Linked DNA regions of Homo sapiens: all the other regions are linked to region 1. The links come from fine-mapping of genetic effects on gene expression. A gene starts in region 1. Each other region holds a variant in brackets. All regions are shown on one strand. Distances are between the middles of the regions.

Evidence for each region. PIP is the estimated chance that this variant, and not a neighbour inherited with it, causes the effect.
Region 2: its variant is fine-mapped to the expression of AP1AR in whole blood (TOPMed, PIP above 0.99).
Region 3: its variant is fine-mapped to the expression of AP1AR in whole blood (INTERVAL, PIP 0.95).

Annotation. Positions count from the first base shown.
Region 1 is chr4:112,227,050-112,235,237 of GRCh38, forward strand. AP1AR (adaptor related protein complex 1 associated regulatory protein) reads left to right here and starts at 4,738. Exons shown (of 10, transcript NM_018569.6): 1 at 4,738-5,125. The coding sequence starts at 5,043. It overlaps AP1AR-DT (AP1AR divergent transcript), which reads right to left and starts at 5,101. Exons shown (of 1, transcript NR_186684.1): 1 at 2,512-5,101. RefSeq lists enhancers at 4,511-5,458, 5,483-5,532 and silencers at 4,563-4,842, 5,003-5,272, 8,066-8,115.
Region 2 is chr4:112,260,178-112,268,365 of GRCh38, forward strand. AP1AR (adaptor related protein complex 1 associated regulatory protein) reads left to right here. Exons shown (of 10, transcript NM_018569.6): 5 at 589-685; 6 at 2,811-2,909; 7 at 4,832-4,890; 8 at 5,557-5,630; 9 at 6,411-6,539; 10 at 7,967-8,188. Among named protein-coding and RNA genes, the nearest start is that of TIFA, 22 kb to the right of the region's middle. The variant C/T (reference allele first, on the strand shown) is at 4,865.
Region 3 is chr4:112,136,393-112,144,580 of GRCh38, forward strand. No RefSeq gene overlaps it. Among named protein-coding and RNA genes, the nearest start is that of FAM241A, 5.0 kb to the right of the region's middle. The variant T/C (reference allele first, on the strand shown) is at 4,006.

The sequences.
Region 1 (8,188 bases):
GTGAGTTAAAAGTACGACTTTGTGTCCATATTTGGAACAATGTCGTAATGGAAAACACAGAATTCTTCCCTTTGCAGGGACCACATAACCTCCACACCACACATAACCTCCACACCAAACATAATAGTAGCAAATGATCTCAAAATGACAAAAAGTGATTAGCAGTCAATAGAGAAGAAGTTCTGAGCAGAGATTCAGATATGGAACCACATAATCCAGAAGACAATTAGGGGTACACGTTGCATCCTGACGGACTTCGGAGCACCTACGAGAAAAGATCATTCCCTTCAACTTCAGAATAAAATACTTGAGAGAAGAAAATGTTGTGGGTTTTTTTTTTTTTTTTTTTTTTTTTTTTTGAGACGGAGTCTCGCTCTGTCGCCCAGGCCGGACTGCGGACCGCAGTGGCGCAATCTCGGCTCACTGCAAGCTCTGCTTCCCGGGTTCACGCCATTCTCCTGCCTCAGCCTCCCAAGTAGCTGGGACTACAGGCGCCTGCCACCGCGCCCGGCTAATTTTTTGTATTTTTAGTAGAGACGGGGTTTCACCTTGTTAGCCAGGATGGTCTCGATCTCCTGACCTCGTGATCCACCCGCCTCGGCCTCCCAAAGTGCTGGGATTACAGGCGTGAGCCACCGCGCCCGGCCGGGGTTTTTTTTAACTTGTATTTTAGGTTCAGGAATACATGTGCAGGTTCGTTATATGGATAAACTCATATCACAGGGATTTGTTGTGCAGATTATTTCGTCACCCAGGTATTAAGCCTAGTACCCAAGAGAATTTTGAAAAGGATGGGGAAGAAGGTGAGAAGTTCTGCTACCTGTAAGCAGGTGGGATGTCTCTAGCAAGCTGACAGTAATCACTGTAGATAGTCTTTCTTTTTTGAGACAAGGTCTGGCTTGTCACCCAGGCTGGAGGGCAGTGGTTAGATCTCGGCTCATTGCAGCCTTGACTTTCTGAGCTCAAGCAATTCTCCCACCTCAGCCTCCTGAGTAGCTGAGAATACAGGCACATGCCGCCACACCTATTTTTTGTAGAGACAGGCTCTTGCCATGTTGCCAAGGCTGGTCTCGAACTCCTGGACTCAAGCCATCTGCCCACCTCAGCCTCCGAAAATTCTGGGATTACAGGCGTAAGCCACTGTGCTTGGTCCCACTGTAGATAATCTAAGTGTTTGTGTATCTTACTGACAAGTTAAATATTCTGCGTAGCCAACTGTCATATAAATGAACTTTTTGAAATGATGAGGTCTTGCTATGTTCCCCAGGCTGAACGCAAACTCCTGGGCTCAAACCATCCTCCTACCTCCACCTTCTGAGTAGCTGGGACTACAGTTACGTGCCACCACACCCAGCTCTAAATGAACTCTCTAGCAATGATGAATTAAACTTATAAATCTTATCAGAATACATGTGACTATGGTCGTTACTGATTTTATACCCATGTCCAAATGTAAGAGTCGAGGAAGCAGTACTGAAGCATGGCAGAAGGCACAAGTCTGTCAGGAGGCCTGAGATTTCTTCATATTATACTTTTAATTCATTGTATGACCTTGAGCAAATCATTTAATTCCTCAAAGACTACTCTTTCTCAACCATAAAATGAAGTTTATCTGCCTCTCAAACATCCATTCCAGTTACGGGTTTTTTCCCTGCTAATTCTGTTTAACTAAAAGCAGATCATCACTTAACTGAATGTTTAAAAAGTCTTAAAACTTACCATGAAGATTCTTGATGTCAAATTTGGTGAAAAATTGCACAATGATAAATTCCAATAACCTCTAAGATTAGCTTGGTAATTTATTTAATACATTTGTAGAAAAAAAATTAAGTAGCTCCCCTGAATTTATTATAATCTACCCATATTCAAGTTATCATTACTTTCGGAGACAGCCAAATGCCTAGGCAGACAAAAAGGGGTCCCCAGAAAAATCTCCCACCTGCCCCACAAGTGTTCACATCAGATGCTTTTGTGCAGATGAGGGAACCTGCCCAGTGCCTTGTGTGAACATGCCCATATGCGCACTGGGGGAATGGGGTGGAACCAGGGCAGGGGAAGGAGGCTGGCCTCTTCAGTTCCTATGTGGTGGCTTGGGATTCAATCTGTGAGGTGCCTTTTCAGTCCCTGTGCAGTAGCCTGGGATTCAGTCTATGAGGTGGGGGCCTGATAACAGGACTCTATCTCGCTTTGGTGAGTTTTTTCTTTTTCCTTTTGCCCAATAAAATCCTGCTCTACTCACCCTTCAATGTGTCCACGTGTCTAAGTTTTCCTTGTCATGTGACAAGAACCTGGTTTTAGCTGAACTGCGGGGCAAAATTCTGCATTTCTAAATGCTTGCATTTGTGATCAAACTCTAATTGAACTGGTTATCAACCTTTTCTACTGAAGGGTCAGATTTAAACATTTTTTTCTGATTACAGAAGTATTAAATAATAATTGTCAAAATTGAGAAAATAGAGAAGAGAAATAAAGCTCCCAACATTCACAGTCTTGAAATAATTACTGTTAGCATTTTGATATTTACCATCCAGCCTTTATTTTCAAGAAACACGTGTAAGAAAGAATGTAAGAATGTATATGTTTTGTTTTAAACATCATTTGGAACATACATATAATTTTCTATCCTGATTTTTCACACATTATTCAGCAAGCATTTTTCCATATTGTTTTAAAAAATATATTTATTATGTCTATATAACAAGAATACACCAGCAAATTTAATCATCCTTCAATTTTTGAGCATTTAGTTTGTTTCTGGCTCTTGGTATTTCCAAATAATTTCTCAGAATGAGTTTCATTATCTGCAGCAGTTTAGAATAGTACCATTTCATTGTATCCTTGCAAATACTGAATATTTCTAACTGTAAAGCTTTGTTAACTTGACAAGTGAATCAATACAAATGACTAAAACATGCATTTTAATTTGCATTATTTTGCTTAGTGAAGTTTTTAAATGTCTTATTCATTTGTATTGCTTCTGAGGATCATTCATATCCTTAACTGAGAGAACAGATTTACTATAAAAAAATTATTTTTAAGTGAGATTCAGTTTTAATAACGGTTTATAGAATGTCTATAGGAAGTGCTGTCAAGTCTATAGCTGCATTTTTTTAATCAAACTTTTTATATTGAGACAATTGTGTCACATGCAGTTTTAAGAAATAATATACAGATGACCGTGTATATCTTTAATCTAGTTTCCCCCAGTGGTGACATGTTACAAAACTATTGCAATATCACAACCAGAATACTGACATTAATATAGACAAGATGCAGGATTTCCATTCCCTGACCCATGGCAATCAATTATTCTGTTGTCCACTTACATAAATTTATCAATTCTGAGATGTTACATAATGGAATTACACAGTATATAAGCATTTGAGATTGGCTTTTTCTTTAACCATAATTTCCTACAGATTCATTTCAGGGTGTGTTCATCAATACTGTGTTCCTATTTGTTACTAAATATTCCATAGGATAGATGTACCAGTTTCTGTAAACATTTATAGTTGAATTTTAATGATTATTTCATTAATACATTTGTCTAATTTCAGGGGTTGGAAGGAGAAAAGAAAATGCTTTCACTAGGAAGTCATTCGGTCATCCCAACATTCACTGAAAGCAAACCATTGGGACAAATGTTATCCTATGCTTCTGATTACAAAACAACTAAAACCCAAATAAAATAAACATTAGTAAGTAGCAGTGCTAAGATTGAAACCAGATACGTATTTAAAGAAGCAAGAAAATGAGTTCAGAGAACATTTTATCATCAATAAAAACTTTCTAAAATGTAACAATTTTTCTAGGTTTAATTAAACAGGCTAAAAACTTGATGTGTCCAGTCCATGAGAGCATCCTCCTATCCACTGGACGAGGTGTCTACTAAACCACATCTTATATCTATTGTGAGGCCAACTGTCTTGAGGCCAAACAAGACGCGAATTATATGGTAGCACTTGAGAGGGCTGCGGACACATTAGAGCAGCTTTCTCTTCCCATCTACAGCAGTTCTGGGCAGCATGCTTGGAATGGCAACGCTGACGTCCCCGAAAAACCCCAGCCCTCTTGCCAATTTCCTCTGAACCCCAACTACCCAACCCAAAATTATGTGAAGATCTGATTTTCAAACAAAACGAGGACAATAATGCACCATTATTACGTTTCCCTAAAACATTAACAGTATGGAAATTAAGACACAAACCAGAGACCGGAAAAAAATCTTGGTGCGTTCAAAGTAACCTCAATCAGTTCCCGAGTCTATTTTCCGCTTATGGTGCAGTATTAACAAAAACTAAGCACACCGTGCAGAGAAACGCCCCTTCGCACTTATGACTTCCGGCCTGGGACTCTGGCTCCTCACACGCCTTTGATACAAAGTTCGAAGGCTGAGCCTTAGCCATGCCACGCCCAGCGTGCTCCGGACGAGGATGCCCGAAACTGCAATGAGAGAGGGAAATTTCCTAGTCAGGTCAAGGTCCAACAAAACAAACGTCCGCACGCAGGAATTGAACCGTCTCGCAGGCAGAGGCGGCTGAACCAGGAGCGAGCGGAAGTGACGCACAGGCCGGTCGCCAGAGAAGGCGGGGCACCGAGGTAGCGCGCCCAATTGGGGCGCGGGAGAGGCCGGGGGTGTGGCAGCGTTGGCGGCGAGCAGGGGCCTGGGCGCGCTGGGGGCGGGGCCAGGGTGCTCGGCTCGCGGGGACTGGCCTCCTTCGGCAGCTGGAGGCGGTCACTCACGCTGGGCTAGGAGCTGAGGCGAGAAGGGCCATGCGGACGGCGAGGGAGTCCAGAGCCTTGAGCCCGGTGCTCCTCCCTCGCGCAGCGGTGGCTCTGCGGCCGCTGGAGTAAACACTGCCTTTGTTCCCTAGCGCCTCGTCTTTCGTCGCCCCGTGCCCTCACGCCGCCGGGCTCTGGCCGGCCCGCCCTCGGTCCTTGAACCCCATTTCGGCTCGTGCCGTGCGGATGCAGCTGCCGGGCCTGGGTTTGGGCATTGAGCGGGAGGAGGAGGAGGAGCGGCGGCGCCTGGGCGGCATGCGATGGGGAACTGCTGCTGGACGCAGTGCTTCGGACTGCTTCGCAAGGAAGCGGGGCGGCTGCAGCGAGTAGGCGGCGGCGGAGGGTAAGCCCGCTGGGGGAGGGGCCCGGCCCCCGTGGCTCCTCCTCTTCGGCCCCCGGCGGGGAATCCCTTTCACCGTCCCCCGGCGGCTGGAGGTGGCGGTCGAGAGCCCTGCTACACTCACTGCTTAGCAGACGTCAGACTGGTGGTCGTCTTGGAGGCCCAGTCTGGGGTCCGGTCTTGGGGCCTCCTCGGAAAGAGGTAGAAGAGGGGGCGGGGTGTCCCTCCTGCCAGGGCGCCCTGTCACGCGGGGAAGGAGTCACGGGAGACATCATCTCCAGGAAACAAGGGGTAGCTTCGCGCTAATGGGCTGTAGGACCGGCTCCACGGCAACCTGGACACACCCTGCGCTGAGCTTAGGTTTAACGCCAAAGCTAGTATCCCTGTATCTGACCCTCTCTTTAGCCCTGGCAGAGCAGGTGGGATCTGGCTCCGGAGTTAATGCCTCAGATTGATTTTAAGTAGAAGTCATTTGGATGCTGGAGTAAAATAAGGTTCCAGATACTGATGAACTCTGGTAGCTACAAAGACTTGCTGAATTGCAGAGTTCCCAATGGGCATTCAGATTCTTGGTGCTCATAACTACAGGGACAATGTGTAATTTTTTCGTATTAAGTTTTTGAAATTTCGAGAGGAATTCCTTGCCCTGATTGCTACTCAAACGTCCTGTAACATTAGGTAAATTGCAGTCCTTCTGAACTTCACTTCTCTTGAGTAAACCTGGGATATTGCTTAGGTTTTGTATATGCACCATCCACAGAATAGTAATTTCATAATTCCGTTTTTGTGTTTTTTTATTTCATATATATTGAAAAAATTAGAGCAAATTCCTTTGGGGTTGGCTTTGTTGTTATTAAATGTCCCTCCGGAATTCAAACCTAGAATTGAAAATCTGAACCAAGCCAGTTTGTGTAAGGACTAAGACTGTTTTGCACTTTCTGAAACAGATTGCTAATTTTTCATAATCTGTTCCATTTAACTAACATTATTGGGTAATAAGATGTTCAACATAAATAAATTGCAGTAAATGATCATAATTTGAATCTTTGGTAATGGAGATCTTATAAAATATAGGATTCTCATTCATTAATTAGGCATTGTGTCACCTCTCTGATACAAAATAGCTAAGGTTTTACACTAAGTATCCCTAGAATGGAAGGGCAAGGATTTGCAGTTTGTGCCTAGTGTAATATTTCGATTTCCCTAATTTATGAGTTATTACTCTTGAGTGGGACATGACAGTTGTTTTATCTTGTCATCCAGGATCATCTGGTTTAAGTATTTATAATTTTTGTGTGTGAATGAAACTTACAAGGTCAAGCTGCTTAAGTAGGCTTGCCCAATAACTAGATGCCACACAATCTTTGGCTTTTACTATTATTTGTAGTTGTGTTACAGGGCGTTAAATTCTAACTCCAAGAAAGTTGGTTGGTGAGGGAGCAGTACTTACATTCTAAATGGATAAGCAAAAAACTTTATATTTGACTTTGGACTACATGATGTGTCTGTGGACTTTAGTTTTGTTTTTTTCATGGGGTCTCCGTAGAGTACGGCATTAAAATTGTAGGTTCTACTCCCTCAGCTCGTGAGCTTGGCAGCACAGGGAGGTGGCAGGAGGAAATCCATGAATCAGCGTGAGTGTTAATTGTCTGTAGATATGCCATAAAAACATAAGCAGGTGGAGTATTTCTTTCTTTTTTTTTGAGACGGAGTCTCGCTCTGTCGCCCAGGCTGGAGTGCAGTGGCGCGCGATCTCGGCTCACTGCAACCTTCGCCTCCCGGGTTCACGCCATTCTCCTGCCTCAGCCTCCTGAGTAGCTGGGACTGCAGGCGCCCGCCACCATGCCCGGCTAATTTTTTTGTATTTTTAGTAGAGACCGGGTTTCACCCTGTTAGCCAGAATGGTCTTGATCTCCTGACCTCATGATTCGCCAGCCTTGGCCTCCCAAAGTGCTGGGATTACAGGCATGAGCCACCGCGCCCGGCCAGCAGGTTGAGTATTTCTTATCTGAAATACTTGCTTTGGAGTTCAGATTTTTATTCAGATTTTGGAATATATGCATTATATACTGGTGTAGTATCTGAAAATCTGAAATCCAGAATTCTCCAATGAACATTTTCTTTGAGTAACATGTTGGCACTCAAAAAGTTTCAGATTTTGGAACATTTCAGATTTTGGGTTTTGGGGTTAGGTATACTCAACTTGTGGTTGGATTTTTACTGTTTGTGGGCAAAGCTCTTTGAACAAGTCCTGTGGAGGCAGTGAGAGTTTATAGGTTGTGGACACTGTCATCTAAAATTATATAATGGTGATATTGATCCTATTACTTTAAGTCTATAAACAGGATTTGACGGTTCCCTTACTTGAATTTTCTGATTAACTTATTGTTTAACATCAATTTTAATACTGTTTTAGCAGCTTCCAGTAAGCATGTAGAGACAGATGGATATAGTTACTTGTGCAATAAGGTTAAACTCTTATTTTAGTTTTTTTTTTTTTTTATCAGCTGTTTTGATTTTCTTTCAAGTATAGGTCTGGATAGTTAGTAGTTCTTCTAAAGGTGAAAAAGTTGAGGAGTAATCACAAAAACTTGATTTGATCCTATATGTCTTTGTAGTGACCACAAAAGAAGAGGGTGTCCTCAACTTTTTTAGCTTGATTTAAGCTAGACTTCACAGGGAAGCCTTATGATCTAAGGCCTGGTTTCTGAGTCTTGCAGATTGACATACCCCTGAGAAATCTGAAAATCAGATCACTCGTTTTTTACTATTTTAATCTCAAAACCAGAATTACCACTTTTTCCAGTTTATAAAATACTAGGGAATTCTAGTATTGTATATTCTAGGATATCTGTTTCACCAGTCAAAATATCAATATCAGTGTTGACGTATGTTGGAAACCCTACTACTAATGAAGTCATTTGGTGATTAAAGCAGAGAGAATTAAATATCTTTAAGGAATAAAACTTAGGCATCCTAATGAGTCATACTTCTTCACTGGAGTTTTGCCTGCCAACACTTTCTACAGGGCTCCATCTGCTGGTCAGTTCTCCTGTTTCTCTGAGC
Region 2 (8,188 bases), 33 kb after region 1:
ATAGGAGTGTAAGAAGGTGAGTATGTTGGTAAGAAAGTAGTTCAGATCTGCCTTGGTGTCCATATTGGTTGTAAGTGAAGCAAGGCCAGAAGATGACTGGGACAGATAGACTGAGAAAAGGGAAGGATGAAGGGCCTGGGGAAGCCAGAGTGATTAAGCAGGATAAAATAGGAGGATTAAGAAGAGTTCCAGAATGGTATGACGGCTGAGATCAGGGTGTAATAGTGTACTGATGTTTATATTTTATGATGAGCATCTTGGGATATGGTTTGGGGTATATACCCATAGGTCAGATGGCTGAAGCAGAGCCAGATGAAGGTAAATAAAATCCACATTTCTTAAAAGGTAGCTGTAATGCTTTAAAAACTATTCTGATATTGTATCATCTTACCAGTTTATATACTAGAATAATAGCAAGTGTTAGAATGTATACTTTTTACTCTTAACAATTGAAGTTGTAGCAAATTGCTTTAACATTTTTAACAGCAAAATTTGAGAATTTCACTGGCTTTTTGAGTGTTTTATTTGGACTTAGACTCATCAGAAGTTTTTGTTTTTTCTTTTTCTCCTCCTCCTTTTTTTCTCTAGGCCTCTTACTGAGGAAGAAATTGTTGACCTAAGAGAAAGGCATTATGATTCCATTGCCGAAAAACAAAAAGATCTTGATAAGAAAATTCAAAAAGAGGTAAATTGTCTTTTATATTGCTTAAGTACATGTTATCATAAAGAGAGAATTGTCATTAAATAATATATTGTGTAGAGTCTTTGGACCTATATTTAGATATATACAGATGAATCTGTTTTAAGAGTTAAAAAAAATCATTCCAGCCTATTATAATTTCTTTTAGTTTGGCTTAATTTATCAGAAATCATATGCTGCCAAAAAATGGAGATAGTACATTCTTTTAAAAATAATTTCTTAATTCACAAAGTAGGAACTCTGGCAAGAATATGCACCTTGGTATTTAAAACCAACTTTTAGAGCAGGCTCACATCTGTAATCCCAGCACATTGGGTGGCCGAGGCAGACAGATTGCTTGAGCCCAAGAGGTTGAGACCAGCCTCAGCAACATGGCAAAACCCCGTCTCTACAAAAAATACAAAATTAGCTTGGTATGGTGGTGCATGCCTGTGGTCCCAGCTATTTGGGAGGCTGAGGTGGGAGTATTGCTTGAGCCAGAGAGGTCAAGGCTGCAGTGAGCCAAGATCATGCCACTGCACTCCAGCCTGGGCAGTAGAGTGAGACCCTGTCTCAAAAAGGAAACAACAACAAAAGCAAATTTTTAAAAAATTACCCTGTTTCACAATAAGTGGTTTTTTGAAGAGTTTTTATCTTGGTGTATTTGTTCTCAGAGAACCAAGTACTTATAATCATAAGTGTTAAAGTTATTTAATGTGTTTATTGAAATGGCCTATAATTATGGTTTTGCACCCACTAAACTAAATGGAATTATTCATATTCTGCTGCACATTTAAAATTTTTCTGTTTAAGACCGGGCTTGGTGGTCATAGTTCCAGCACTTTGGGAGACCTGTAGTTCCAGCACTTTGGGAGACTGAGGTGGACAGATCACTTAAGCCCAGGAATTTGAGACCAGCCTGGGCAACATGGTGAAAACCCATCTCTAAAAAAAAATACAAAAATTAGCCGGGTATGGTAGCATGCACCTATAGTCCCAGCTACTAAGGAGGCTGAGGTGGGAAGATTTTGAGCCCAGGATCCTCAAGACTATGGGAGGTCGAAGGGGAGCCACTAGACTCCAGCCTGGGTGACAGAGCAAGACCCTGTCTCAAAAAAAAAAAATAAATGCACACACACATATACATACATACATATACATATATTTGTCTGTTTAATGTGGGTATGGTGGCTAATGCCTATAGTCCCAGCACTTTGGAGGCCAAGACAGGCAGATTGCTCAAGTCCAGGAGTTAAGAACCAGCCTGGGCAACTTGGCAAGACCTCATCTCTGCAAGAAATACAAAAATTCACCCGGGGTGGTGGCGCACGCCTGTAGTCCCAGCTACTCTGGAGGCTGAGGTGGGAGAATGGTTTGAGCCCAGGAGGTCAAGGCTGCAGTGTTGGTGCCATGGTACTGCAGGCTGGGTGACAGAATAACACCCTGTCTCAAAAAGAAAAGTATGTTTAGGACCAATTAGTGATTTCAAAAGCATTAACGTAAGCTATACAGTAGCTGTTAATATTAGTCTAAAGAAAAAAATTTGTGTTGAAATTTGATTTTCAAGTTAACTTTAACATACAATAGATATTACTAAAGCAGCTTATGTGCTCTTATGAATAGCAAGAACTTACATTTGAAAGTAATTTTTTAATAGTTTGATAGTAATGAAATTAAGGAGACATGTGCATTGATGTTAATTAGATGGCAAGACATGAATTTTGTGAAAGCTGAGTTCACTTTGGTCACAGTGACGTAATTGATCTTAAAGATACTGGATTTATGAGGGCCAAAACCGGCAAACTAGTGAGGGTGATAGGTGTTGGAATGATTGTTTAAAATGAAGATCACTGCAGATTCTAAAGAAACACTTCTATATTTATACAGAATAGATGCTACTGCTTCATAACTCAGTTTCTAAGGAATTCCGTAATGTGTTTTATATCCTTTGGGTTATTTTGTAAAAGAAAAAATTTAAACAATTGCAAACATTTCAATTCTGTTATGCTTTGTAGAGATCAATTATTTTTTAATAATTTATTTTTTGTTTTATAAATAGAAGCATTTTATTTTTAGAGCAGTTAGACAGGTTCTGATTTTTGTTAATCCTTATCGTTTTGTTCATGTACAGTTAGCCTTACAAGAAGAGAAGTTAAGACTAGAAGAAGAAGCTTTATACGCTGCACAGCGTGAAGCAGCCAGGGCAGCAAAGCAGCGAAAGCTCTTGGAGGTGAGGGGAAAAGACCCCAGCATATATTAGGGTTGCTTTTCTCCTTATTTTCTCTGACAAATCTTAGTTGGGACTCTTTTTTTCCTATTCTCAAGGACTTCTTGTTTAACAACGAATGTGTTTACCCATATATTCTTAAGAATTTTCAAGGCAAATTAGTCAGTCATTAACAGCTAGAAATAACATCAGATTACATGCTTGATACTCAATGCTATTTAGCTTTAGATTAGCAAATGCTGATTCCTGTTTATCCTAAAGATAAATTTTAGTGCTATAAAATTCAGTATTCTTTTGGAAAAATTAAATGTACTCTTAGAGGGAAAGCGTTGCAAAACTAGCCTTTAAATATAATTGGCAAAGCATTTTGTTTTGTGAGGGTTTTTTTTTTTTTAACAGTTTTTTAAATTGCTAGAATTTCTTTTTTTCCTGGAACTGGATAAACTGTGCTATTTTCCCCATAAAATTATTACTTGCTTCTCATCTTTATTCTTGTGTCCTTGGGAGATTGGGAGTTTGGGTCTTGAGAAATCGTTGGAATATTATCAGAGAAGGCAGCAGATTTACCGTATCTTACCATGCTGCATTACCATAATGCCTGGCAGCTGTAAGTAACAGGCATTTATGGAACCCTAACTGTCAGGAGCAGCAATGTTTTACCTTATTTAATCCTCACAACAATCTTATGAGATAGTGTTTTTAATCCCTGTTTTACAAATGAGAAAACTGAGAGTAGGATATGTTTTGTAACTTGCTTGAGATCCTACAGTTAATAAGGGCCAGAGCCAAAGTTCAAGCACAACAGTGCTTAGCTGGTATCCTTAATATCTTCCTCCATATTTTGCCTGTTTGGATTCACCTCTGTAGTGTTAACTGAAGTAGTATAAAGATCATGTCACATTGTAAAACTTAGAGAAACTGAAATATCATGTCTATCATATTGTTACATGATTTCTATGTGAACTGTGTCCTTCTCCCCCCAACTTTCCTTCATTTTTTTCCCTCTCTCTCTCTGCTGTTTTAGCAGATTATATGAAGGAATATATTTTCTTTTTAAGTCAGTTCTAAATAATGAACAAGTTTTTAACTTTTACCTTCTACTAAGAAAAGTATTTTTCTGGTTATCATATAGACACTTTTTACTGTAATAGATTATCTACTGCTTCCCTTTTAAAGACAAAGCATTCCATATGCAGCATCCATATGGGTGATTTCCAGGATTCTCTGAGTTTTTCCTACCCTGGTTTAAATATTTGATGTAGGAACACATTACAGTCTATACAGCACATACTGACACACAGACATACACTGACACCCACCAAGTCATTTGATTTTCATGGGAACCCTGAGTTTGCTAGAGCAGTAATATAGCTATCTGTAATTTATAGGTGAAGGAACAGTAGGTAAAGGCCATGCCAGGGATATATAGCTAATAGCTATCAGAGCCACAACTCCCAACAGTTCTTCTAAATCTTAGCCAATTGCTTTTATTATTTCTGAGTCAACTCAGCCAGATCTTATAAATCTGTTGTTGTATTGCTACTTATTTCACCCAGAATGGAACTTCATGTATTGTTTTAACTATTCCTTTCCTGCTCCTCATTTTTCCAGTTGGTTGGAAGTTCTTGGGTATACTAAGAATGTTAAGGATATCAATACATATCTGTTAAAAAAAAGTTATTTTTTAATAACACTATGAATATTCTGGCCACTTCTGGATTACACATAGATAAATTCAGAAAAATTCTTCCCATAAATAAGGGGATATAGAATTGAATAGTGATGGATTTAAGGAAAAATATATCAACAAAATAACTTTTTTTTTTAGAAACTAGAAAAAAATACTTTTTGGTGTTGCATGAGTGGTTTTAAAATATATAATTTTACAACAGAGTGATTTTTTTTATTACATTATGTTTCCAAAGCAAGAAAGGCAGAGAATTGTGCAGCAATATCAT[C/T]CTTCCAACAATGGAGAATATCAAAGGTAAATAGTGAAACATATGCCTCCTTCCCTTTGTGGTAGAACATTTTATTGCGGTGTAGAGCATCATTCACCTCAAGATGTGTATATACGCATTCATGTTTATGTGTTCCCTAAAAATTATTCCTTCTAAAAGACATTGTCTTGGAAGAAAACTGAGAACATTTAAGTTGAAACATTATTATTAATTTAAACTGACTTTATTGCATTTTTAAGAGTGGTCTCATTTCCCATATAGATGTGATACAATAGCTGAATGCCTTTGGGTGAGTTGTTTATACCCCAGTTGTTTGTGTTTTCCTTAGTCCCTCTCTTTCTTATAATAAAGTTTATGTGTGGTCATTTTTTGGAAGAGATATTTCAGTGTCACATTTCCACAAGTATCACTACTCATTCAAAGAATATTGTTCATGATTCATTATTGTAAAGTTGGACTTATGGCTAAGCTTTGGAGATTGGACTTCAGGATTAATGAAAATCTTCTTATTTTCAGTTTCATTTTAGTATTAAGAAAATTAAGAACTATTTTCATTAGGTTATTCTAATTGTACAGCAGTTATGAATTTGTATGACATAGGTCTTCAAGCCACAATGCCATCATTAGCTTATATATTTGTCATATTGCAGCTACCATGAATATATTAAAAAATTATTTCACTTTTATTACAGTTCAGGACCAGAAGATGACTTCGAATCTTGTTTGAGAAATATGAAGTCACAGTATGAAGTTTTTCGAAGTAGTAGTAAGTTTTTTAAAGTATTTTCTGTACTTTTTATGCCACAGTAAACAGATAAGTAGAGATTCTGGCTCTGTTTCTGTAGAAGAACTTTCTGTTCTTAAATTTGTAATTCCCAGATAGGTCAATTTCCTAGGTAGTCATTAATTATACAACCTCATCTTTTCTTTTTAAAAAGAAGTTGGAGCAAAGAAAAATCTCAGACTATTTCTGTAGATCCATATAGGAAGTCAAGCACTCCTTTTTCCATTTCTACTCTGATCCTAACCCTTCCCTTTCCAAAAAAAAGAAAGGAAAGGTGGGAGGAAGTAATAGAAAAGTGTACTTATTTTTTACTTATTACAGATTGACTTATAAGATTAAAATATTTCCTCAGGTTTCAAAAGCAAAAACTCTTATGCTTCCCAATACTGGAAGCATAGTATGGTAGTGGTTCCTTTTGAAAATATAGGTTGCTTTTTGTTTTATCTTTCTTGTTCATTGTTTTTTGTGCCGCTTTGTAATTGACTGTTAAAAATATTATCTAGAGTTAATCATATTTGAAAAGTTTATAATCATTTATATTTGCATGTTTGCTATGCTTAGATGGCAAAAAAAAAGAGAGAAAAGTTTCTTTATACTGTTCCTAACAGAAACTTACCAATAAAATGATTTCCAGAATTATTTCTTATGAAGCTAAAAGTAATAATAATAATATTTAGAGACAGATAATTGTTACAAAATAAAACGGCTGTTGCGGTGGAAGAGTAGATGAGAGTATTCAATTGTATTTCGTGTATATTCTAGGACTCTCATCAGATGCTACAGTTTTGACACCAAATACAGAAAGCAGTTGTGATTTAATGACCAAAACTAAATCAACTAGTGGAAATGACGACAGCACATCCTTAGATCTAGAGTGGGAAGATGAAGAAGGTATTTTATAATTCACAATTTTACCTGAAAAATTTAACGTAATCTGTGTTGATTTATGTAAATCTACCTTGGTCTTTATTTAAATGGAAATAAATTCAAGGCCTTGAAAAATCATATAAACACTTTTTAGACCATTATTGTATTGGTGATGATCTCTGTTGATAAAAATTTTTAGAAAATTGCTTAATTTTTAATGTTTCTTTAGATTTAGAAAATAAATGTCGATTTCTTTAAGGTTTTTGTAATCCAAGCCCATGACATTACTCAGTATGAAGGATTACTACCCCCTTGTGGACAGTCCAAAGCCAGAAGTTAAATATAACTTCTCTTAGAAATAAATCCACAGAAACAAATCCACCAGATACAGATCTACAAAGTTATATTAGTATCTAGCTCATATTTTTTTCTTATCTATAGAAATAACTTGTTTTACTGGGTTGAGTCTTTGTGATTTTTCAGGAGTGACAGACAACGGTGATACAGATTTAAATGTTCTTTTATGGTGGGATCTGAGCTTTAAGGTCAAAAAAGAAAATCATTAAATGTGTCTGGGAATATTACAATCTCTTTGTGAATCCTAGATTTTAATTCTGTTACCAATGTTGATTCTGTACTTACAGATTCAAATTTCTTTTCTGTCCTGTCTCCCTTCCTTCTGCCAGTAAAATGACATTATTTTTTCCTTTCAAGATTATTGACACTTTCACTTTACCAATTTCATTTTGTTCAGAATTAGATCTAGAACAGTTTCCCATAGAAATGTCTCTACTCTGTTGTGGTAGAGTCAGAAGAGCATAATACCACAGACTTTGGAGCCAGACTGAATGGATTAAAATTCTTGCTTCACCACTTTTTAGCTGTGTGACCTTACCCAAATCACTTAGCCTTTCTGTCCCGGTTACCTCAGCTATAGAATGAGAATAATGATAGTACTGTACTCCATAGAGTTGTTGGGGATTAAATCAGTTCATATCTGTGGCATATATGTCACATTAACTGGAACCTAGTAAATGCTGGAAAAGTACATGTTATCATTAGAGTGATTGTCATTCTCTGGGAAATGAAATTATGTGGGTAGGAAAAGACTTTGGCAGACATACTAACTTGGCTATATGAGACTAACAGCAGTTGAAATCCTCCATCCATTCTGTTTTATTTATGAGTCTTCAGGAATTTCATCTTATCGGATAATCGATGCATCAAAACTGCCCTTTGGTGACTGTTAATATTTATTTTTATCTGAGGCATACTTCAGGGTTAGAACCCAACAATTTCCCTTAAGAAGGCCTCCATGGGACTGGGTCTTTAAGTTAATTCACACATCAAGTCTGATAGTTAAATAAAAACTACATTGCTAAATTTGGGAGTTTTTAAATATAGCTTTATTATCTGTTCTGAGATTTTTGAAAACTCTGTTCAAATCATAGGAATGAATAGAATGCTTCCAATGAGAGAACGTTCCAAAACAGAGGAAGACATTCTACGGGCAGCACTTAAGTATAGCAACAAGAAGACTGGAAGTAATCCTACATCAGCCTCTGATGATTCCAATGGGCTGGAGTGGGAAAATGATTTTGTTAGTGCCGAAATGGATGATAATGGAAATTCCGAGTATTCTGGATTTGTAAATCCTGTATTAGAACTGTCTG
Region 3 (8,188 bases), 91 kb before region 1:
GAAGAAGGGCAAAGGGGGATGAACACTATGTCCTCACATGGTGGAAGAGCGGAAGAGAAGAAATCCACTCCCTCAAGCCCTTTTATAAGAGCCTAATCTCATCCACAAGAGCTCTGCCCTCATGACTTAATCACTTCCTAAAGGCCCTACCTCTTAACACTGTCACATTGGCCAAAAGTTTCACGAATTTTAGAGGACACATTCAGGCCACAGCAACATGACACTGTGCCATCACTCATATCTCCTATTCCATAGCAGTCATTCTTTCCCAGTAAATTTTCACAAGCCTTCTTGTGAAAATACAGTGTGCCACGCAGTTGCTACCAGTAACTGGAACGTGAGATGAAACCCATCTGCCTCTCCGTATCTAGGCTTACATCTGCTAGTACCGTATTGGCAGATACTATTTGGGGTCTGATTTCTTGCCCAGCTGGAGATACATACAGAATTCTTTAATTTCTGTTTCAGCTTTTTGCATTCCCTTTTAAGTCAACCACTAAGTTATTTACCATGTGAGGAAACCCAAGATCCAAGCTCATTTGCAGAGCATAGATAACAGATTTCCCATATGCAATGAAAAAGCTAAGCATACCTCATGCTATCAGCTCCATTCACGTAATATTAATGCTAACTAATATGTTTTGAGTATAAACTTAGATGCCATAATACCCGTTATTTTGCAAATAAAAAAACTGAGGATTAGAAAGAGCCAGGATTGGAATCTAGCGGCAGTCAAGGCTCAAGTTTTAGAATTGTTAACTGCTAGAGTGTTCCACCTTACTTCTCCAGATCCTGGAGAAGTGCAGCATTCCTTCCAGAATTTCTTGATTCTCTTCATATATACCATTTTTAAAAACTCATTGAAGGTCAGGTGTGGGGGCTCACGCCTAAAATTTCAGCACTTTGGGAGGCTAAGGCAGGCAGATAGCTTGAGCTCAAGAGTTGGAGACCAGCCTGGACGACATAGTGAGACTCCATCTCCATCGAAAGTACAAACAATTAGCTGGGCATGGTGGCACCTGCCTGTAGTCCCAAGTACTCAAGAAGCTGAGGCATGAGAATTGCTTGAGCCTGGGAGGCAGAGGTTGCAGTGAGCTGAGATTGCACTGCTGCACTCCAGCCTGAGTGACAGAGTGAGACCCTATTTCAACTTAAAAACAACTCAGTGAGAGTAATAGGCTTAGCCAGGAAAACACATACAGGACAGCAAATTTAGAAAAAATATTAACAACTGGACATTCCAGGTGAACACCCTGTGAATGTTCACTGTACTATTGCAACCTTTCTTAAGGTGTGAATTTTTTCAGAATAAAAATGTGGAGGCAAAAATGTAATAGACCTAATTTTCACTGAGTAAAGAGGGTTTTTCTCATTGCAGAGTGTTAAAATAATAGATACCTTGGAATTATAATAGGACAACTTATATGTATATCAAAACATTTTAAAGATCTTTGGGGAGGTGTTGGCAAAAATAACCTTAGATAATTTAATTATGATGATTAAGACACAGCATAAGAAAAATTCCTTCTATCCTTTCACTTTTGAGAATTAGTATCTCCAATCAGAACAACTTGACTAATTGGAATAAATGAAAAGAACAGCAGCCAAGGCACTCAGGTTAGATCTAGAAGAAAAGTCAGATAGAAATCATAGATTTTTTTTTCTTTTCTTTCTTTTTTTTTTTTTTTTTTTTTGAGATGGAGTCTTGCTCTGTCGCCCAGCCTGGAGTGCCACGGTGCGATCTCCGCTCACTGCAAGCTCCGCCTCCCGGGTTCACGCCATTCTCCTGCCTCAGCCTCCCGAGTAGCTGGGACTACAGGCGTGCATCACCACGCCCGGCTAATTTTTTTGCATTTTTAGTAGAGACAGGGTTTCACTGTGCTAGCCAGGATGGTCTCGATCTCCTGACCTCATGATCTGCCCGCCTCGGCCTCCCAAAGTGCTGAGATTACAGGCGTGAGCCACCGCCCCAGGCTGAAATCATAGAATTTTAAAGGAGAGAGAGATTTTTCAAATTGTCTGGTTCAGCCTGCTCATTTTACTCACTATGAAATTCAATAGCAGAAATTTTAAATAAACTGCACAAATTTCTGCAGCCTGAGAGTGGCAGAACTAGCCATTTCTCCTGTATCCCAGTTTAGAGTTTATATCATTCTGATTCCTTTAGTAAGTGATGAAGAGCTAACTCAACATGGCTTATGGAAAAAAATTGGGGACAACATTATGGTGATAGATTTATGGGTTAACATAACTGAGAAAAGCATACAGGTGTAGCTCTAATATTTGGAGTAGCTAGCTAAAAATATTCATCTCTCAATCATGTATTCTGCTGGGCTGACTTCATTCTTATGCCCTATATGGTTGTCCTCCTGCAGTTCCAAGCTCATACCATCACAGGCCAATCCTGTAGACAATACTTTTCTTATAATACAAACAAAAGTCCCCAAATTGAGTTTTATTGGCCCTGATTGGCCTGACTTGTGCCTATTCTTGAACCAATCACAGTGGCCATGGGAGGTGGGGAGAGTAAAATGAATTTAATTTACTTAGTAAAAGCCATATTCTCCATTCCAATCACAGACTGGGAGTGGGAGACTGGTCAATAAGAAAAGCTGGGGTATTGTTAACAAAGGAGTAGGTACACCTTACTGCTCATCTGTGAATAATAAATGTGCTTTGCCTAAAAGAAAAAAGTAGGTACAGATAACAATAGCAAAACCCAACATTTATCCATAAATAACAGTAAAAAGAATAAAGTATAAGAGAAGACAAAATCACTTTTAAAAAAAGTTTGAGGCCAGGCATGGTGGCTCACGCCTGTAATCCCAGCACTTTGGGAGGCTGAGGCAGGCGGATCACGAGGTCAGGAGTTCAATACCAGCCTGGCCAACACAGTGAAACCCCATCTCGACTAAAAATACAAAAATTAGCTGGGCGTGGTGGTGGGCGCCTGTAGTCTCAGCTACTCGGGAGGCTGAGGCAGGAGAATCGCTTGAACTAGGGAGGCGGAGGTTGCAGTGAGCCGAGATGGTACCACTGCACTCTAGCCTGAGCAACACAACTAGACTCTGTCTCTAAAAAATAAAAAATAAAAAAATAAAAAATTGAAAGGACTGTCACCAAAAATAATAATAATAATAATTAATTCGTTCTTTTGTACTTCAGAAATGAATTAGGACCAAGAGGCAGAGGAGATAAGGATATAGATTCAAGTCAGGAGATGCAATAAACTTTCTAACAATTAGTATTAGTTATTTGGTAATTGAATAGGCAGTATCATGAAGTAATGAGTTTCCCATAGTTGGAGGCCTTCAAGCAGAAGAAGGGTGACCATCTACCAGAAATGTTATAGAAGGGATCCTACATTGGGTGATAGCTTGCTATAAACTGCCTCTGAGATTCCTTCCAACTCTAAGATTCTAAATTATTGAGAACAACATGAATAAAAGATCCAAACTCATTCAAGAACTAAATAATTCAACAAAAGGTAATATAACTTTCATCTATGAAGTTGAATCAACCAGACTTTGGGTGCCAGCAATCCCATTTTACAAGAAAAACAGATATAGATCTTTTTAAATGGTTTATTTTTAAATTACAACATTAAAATTAATTTTACAAGGAAACACATACCCCAGAGTCACATTGTCCAAAAAGCCATTTTAAAATTTTATCTTCCAAATTTGATCTTTTTGTTCACATAATTTCACCTCTGTGAGACTTATTTCCTAAGCTGAGAAGCTAAGTCCTGAATTACTCTTTTTACCTGCCTAGCTCCTGGGGTACAGGATAACTGAGTGACTCTGTTACTACCAATCTTCACTTTTTCACTTAACATTATATTTAAATGTTTATCACATTGATATAAAATCTTTACCATTTTAAGGCTTTACATATTTGTGTTGGTATACCACAGTTTACTTAGGTGTTTTCTTACAGGAAGACATTTAGGCTACTTTCAGCTTTTCACTATAATTCTGCCTTGAACATCTTTATGCAAACAAC[T/C]TTTTCCCCTTTTTGTTTTTTAATTTTTACTTTTATTTTAAATAATAATTGTACACATTTACAAGGTTCAATGTGATGTTTCGATATATGTGTACATTGTGGAAAGATTATATCTAGATAATAAAGTTACCCATCAGCTCACATATCTTTTTTTTATGGTAAGAACATTTAAAATCTACCCTTTTAGCAGTTTTGAAATATGCATTATTATTAACTATGGTCACTATGCTGTGCAATAGATCTCAAAAAGTTACTCTTCCTGTCTAACTGAAACTTTGTACCCTTGGGACAACATCTCTCTGTCCCCCACCCCACCCCTTTTTTAATTCTTTCCCAGGACTGGAGTTAGTAGGCCAAAGGGTACGGATATCTCTGTGGTTCTGAGTATGTACTGCCAAAAGAATGCTATCAGTTTTCAGAGCTACTAGCAATGCCTGAGTTTAACCATTTCTCTAAAATATTGCTCACATTAGGTTTTATTCGACATTTTAAAAATTACTAACAGATATTAAATAGTGCTTAATTATTGTCTATATTTCCACTTTTTTCTCTAGCAATAAGTTTAAATAGCCTTCTCAATACTTTTTTTTTTTAATAAAACAACTGTTAATCTATCTTCCTACTGTAAGGAGAGAACTCAGCAGTGCATCTGAATGCAACAAAATCACACTAGAGAACGTTAATAGAGCAGAGAGGATAAAAATTAATTCCAACCCAGGCATAGTGGCTCACACCTGTAATCCCAGCACTTTGGGAGGCTGAGGCGGGCGGATCACCTGAGGTCAGGAGTTTGAGACCAGCGTGGCCAGCATGGTGAAACCCCGTCTCTACTAAAAACACAAAAATTAGCTGGTGTGGTGGCACACGCCTGTAATCCCAGCTACTCGGGGGTCTGAGGCAGGAGAATCGGTTGAACCCAGGAGGTGGAGTTTGCAGTGATCCGAGATTACACTACTGCACTCCAGCCTGAGTGGCAGAGCAAGACTCTGTCTCAAAAAATAAAACAAAAATTAATTCCAACAGAAAGAGCAAATTTCTCCTTCTCCCAATCAGAATGGACTCTCTGGGAAGGCAAGAGAGCATTAATAGAGCGTTGTTTAAGCTGATACAGCTTCCTTAAACTGAAAGAACACTAAAGGAAGTGAGGCCTCTCCAAGTTTCCTTTCCTTGAAATTTACATCAATTGTGCAAGAACCATAGTTTCCTGGAATTTTGGTTCAGATTCCAAACATCTCAAAAATAATTCCCTGTGCCCTGCTAAATAGAAAGGAAGCAGATGAAAATCATATGAGAAAAATTAAAGCATATAGGAAGCTTAGAATAACATTATAGTGTGTCAAAAATCAAACCAACAAATGTAATTTGGGGTAGTTTCCACAAATAACTGCATTTGTTTTTCTAAGATTGTATTACCAATTGAGTCCAGAACTCTCTGATTTGCTCGTTTCTCCCTCTGGAAAGATGCACAAATGAAATAAGAATAGAGGAACATTAAAAATAATAAAGGCATGAAAGTGAAGGATTAAAAGTCCTTGTTCCCATAGCAACTGCACCAGCCACATTTGCACTAGACAGGCCATTCCTTAGACGTGCATCTGTTTCTTGCACTTATTTATTTCTGGGAAAGCACAAAACACACTAATAAAATCACAACAAAACTCCATATGATTTGACTTTGGGAGGCCAAGGTAGGCGGATCACCTGAGCGCAGGAGTTCGAGACCAGCCTGGCTAACATGGCAAAATCCCATCTTTACAAAGATACAAAAATTAGCCTGGCATGGTGGCACACACCTGCAGTCCCAGCTACTTAGAGAGCTGAGGCAGGGCAGGAGGATCGCCTGAGCCTGGGAGGTGGAGGTTGCAGTAAGCTGTGATCATGCTACTGCACTGCAGCCTGGGTGGAAGAGCGACACTCTGCCAAAACACACACACACACACACACACACACAAACAAAAAAAAAAACCACTACATATGATTTGAGACCAACATGTTATAGTTGCCTAGGTAATAACAATCTTATATTTCCCATGGGAAACTGGCAGTGCTAGCTTTATGTGTATATTTTTCACATTGTGCAGCAGAGTGAAAACAGCCCTCTCCTCCCATAAGATTAGGCTGTAATCTGTTTAATGTCTTTTGTGTAAAATGCTAGATTTATTTAAAGAGGTGGTTCTCCAGATCTCCAGGAAAAATCAGACTCTATGAACAAAAGAATAACAGCTTAAAGAAAAACTCACTCACTAAATTAAAGGTAAATGATATTAAGAAAAAAAAAAAAGGTTCTGCCTTCAGTCCTAGGTGGAGATCCAAGGATTCTGGCTACTCTTCGGTAAAAGTTCTTGGTTTCTGCCAAGAAAATAACACAAGAATTGGATTAAAATGAAGCTTCATGAGAATAGGGACCTAGACCTGGGCCAAACGCCTAGTAGTGTTCAATAAGAGAATAGGGACCTAGACCTGGGCCTAAAGCCTAGTAGCGTTCAATAAATACCTACTAAAAAACTGAATTAATACACTTCTCAAAGACTCAAGAAGCCGGAATCTACAAAAGACCAGACAGTATACTCTAAAGGAATTTTGTAAGACTTGTCCCCTAAGCTGAACAAAGCTAACCTCTGTATTGTACCTGCCCAGCTATATAAATACTCTGTGCCTTCTGAGTCCTCTTATATATAAGGAATTTCTGCTCACTGTAGCCTGATTGAAGAGTGCATAGTTGTTTGGCTTATCAAGTTGCCAATCAAACGCTATGAGGGAGAACTTCAAAATGTGCCTTAGTTCATGGGGTTGGCAGTAAAGAGCTGATGTTCTCTGGGTTGCTGTATATAATTCCAAAGTTTTATCCAAAAAAGTTGATTTTTATTTTTTTATTTTTTTGAGACGGAGTCTTGCTCTGTCACCAGGCTGGAGTGTAGTGGCGTGATCTTGGCTCACTGCAACCTCTGCCTCCCGGGTTCAACTGATTCTCCTGCCTCAGCCTCCCTAGTAGCTGGGACTACAGGCATGTGCCACCACACCCAGCTAGTTTTTGTATTTGTAGTAGAGATGGGGTTTCACCATGTTGGCCAGGATGGTCTCCATCTCTTGACCTTGTGATTCGCCTGCCTCGGCCTCCCAAAGTGCTGGGATTACAGGCGTGAGCCACCACGCCCAGCCAAAAAAAAAAAAAGTTGGTTTTTATAAGAAACACTACTAATAGCCAAACCAAAATTCCAAGAATGAAAATGTTGCCTTCAGGGGAAAAAAAATGAGGCCCATCAGAAAGGCTACTGGGTTCCCATGGTGATATTTGTTTCTGATTGTATGTATATAATATTAAATACTCTTTTCTGGAGTTTTAAAGACTTTTAAGAAAGGGAATGAACCAGATTCATTTTCTTTCTAATTTTTGATATCCAACGGCATATTTTCTGGCCCCTAGAGAGATTGTTTGTGGAGGAGAGACAATCAGAGAGGGCATGTGTGAGAAACCATGTGTGAGAGATGGTGTGTGCGCGAGGTTGTATATGTGTGAGAGAGACTGTATGTATGTGAAATCATGTGTGTATGAGAGAGATTGTGTGTATGAGAGATTGTGGGTGTGTGAGAAAGACTGAGAATCTCCTGACTACAAAAAACAGGAAACTTCTTTAAAATAAGCCTATGAGATTCTGCCTATTTTAATTCCTTCTCTGGGCCTGAAAACATTTTAATAGAAGATCCCAAATAACTCTTACTCTTCTCCATGTGTACACATGTTTACTTTCCATATTTACTTTTCTGTATTTTACCTGTACAATAACCCATCGTTTTCCCAATGTACAGATAAGGCATACACAGAAAAAAAAGTGATATTTTATTTAAACACCCTTCCATTTTCCTTGAATAAAATGGATGGAGTAGTACAAAAAATAATTATCAATTGGATATATTCCCCTCACCACCCACTGAGAAAGACATATTCTTACCCAGTTACAGAAAGATACATCATTTGATACACCATCAAACGACCCAAGGCTCCAACAAACAACACACACTAGGAAGCACTCAACAGAAAGGGACAAATACACAGACCTTCAGTGAGACACTAGGAAAGGAGGCTAAAGGAACAAGAGGGACAGTGAAATGTGTCTTCCTTGAAAAGGACGGGCAGATACTCAGGCAAGAACAGGGGTACTCTGCTGGAGAGTGTAACTGGGTG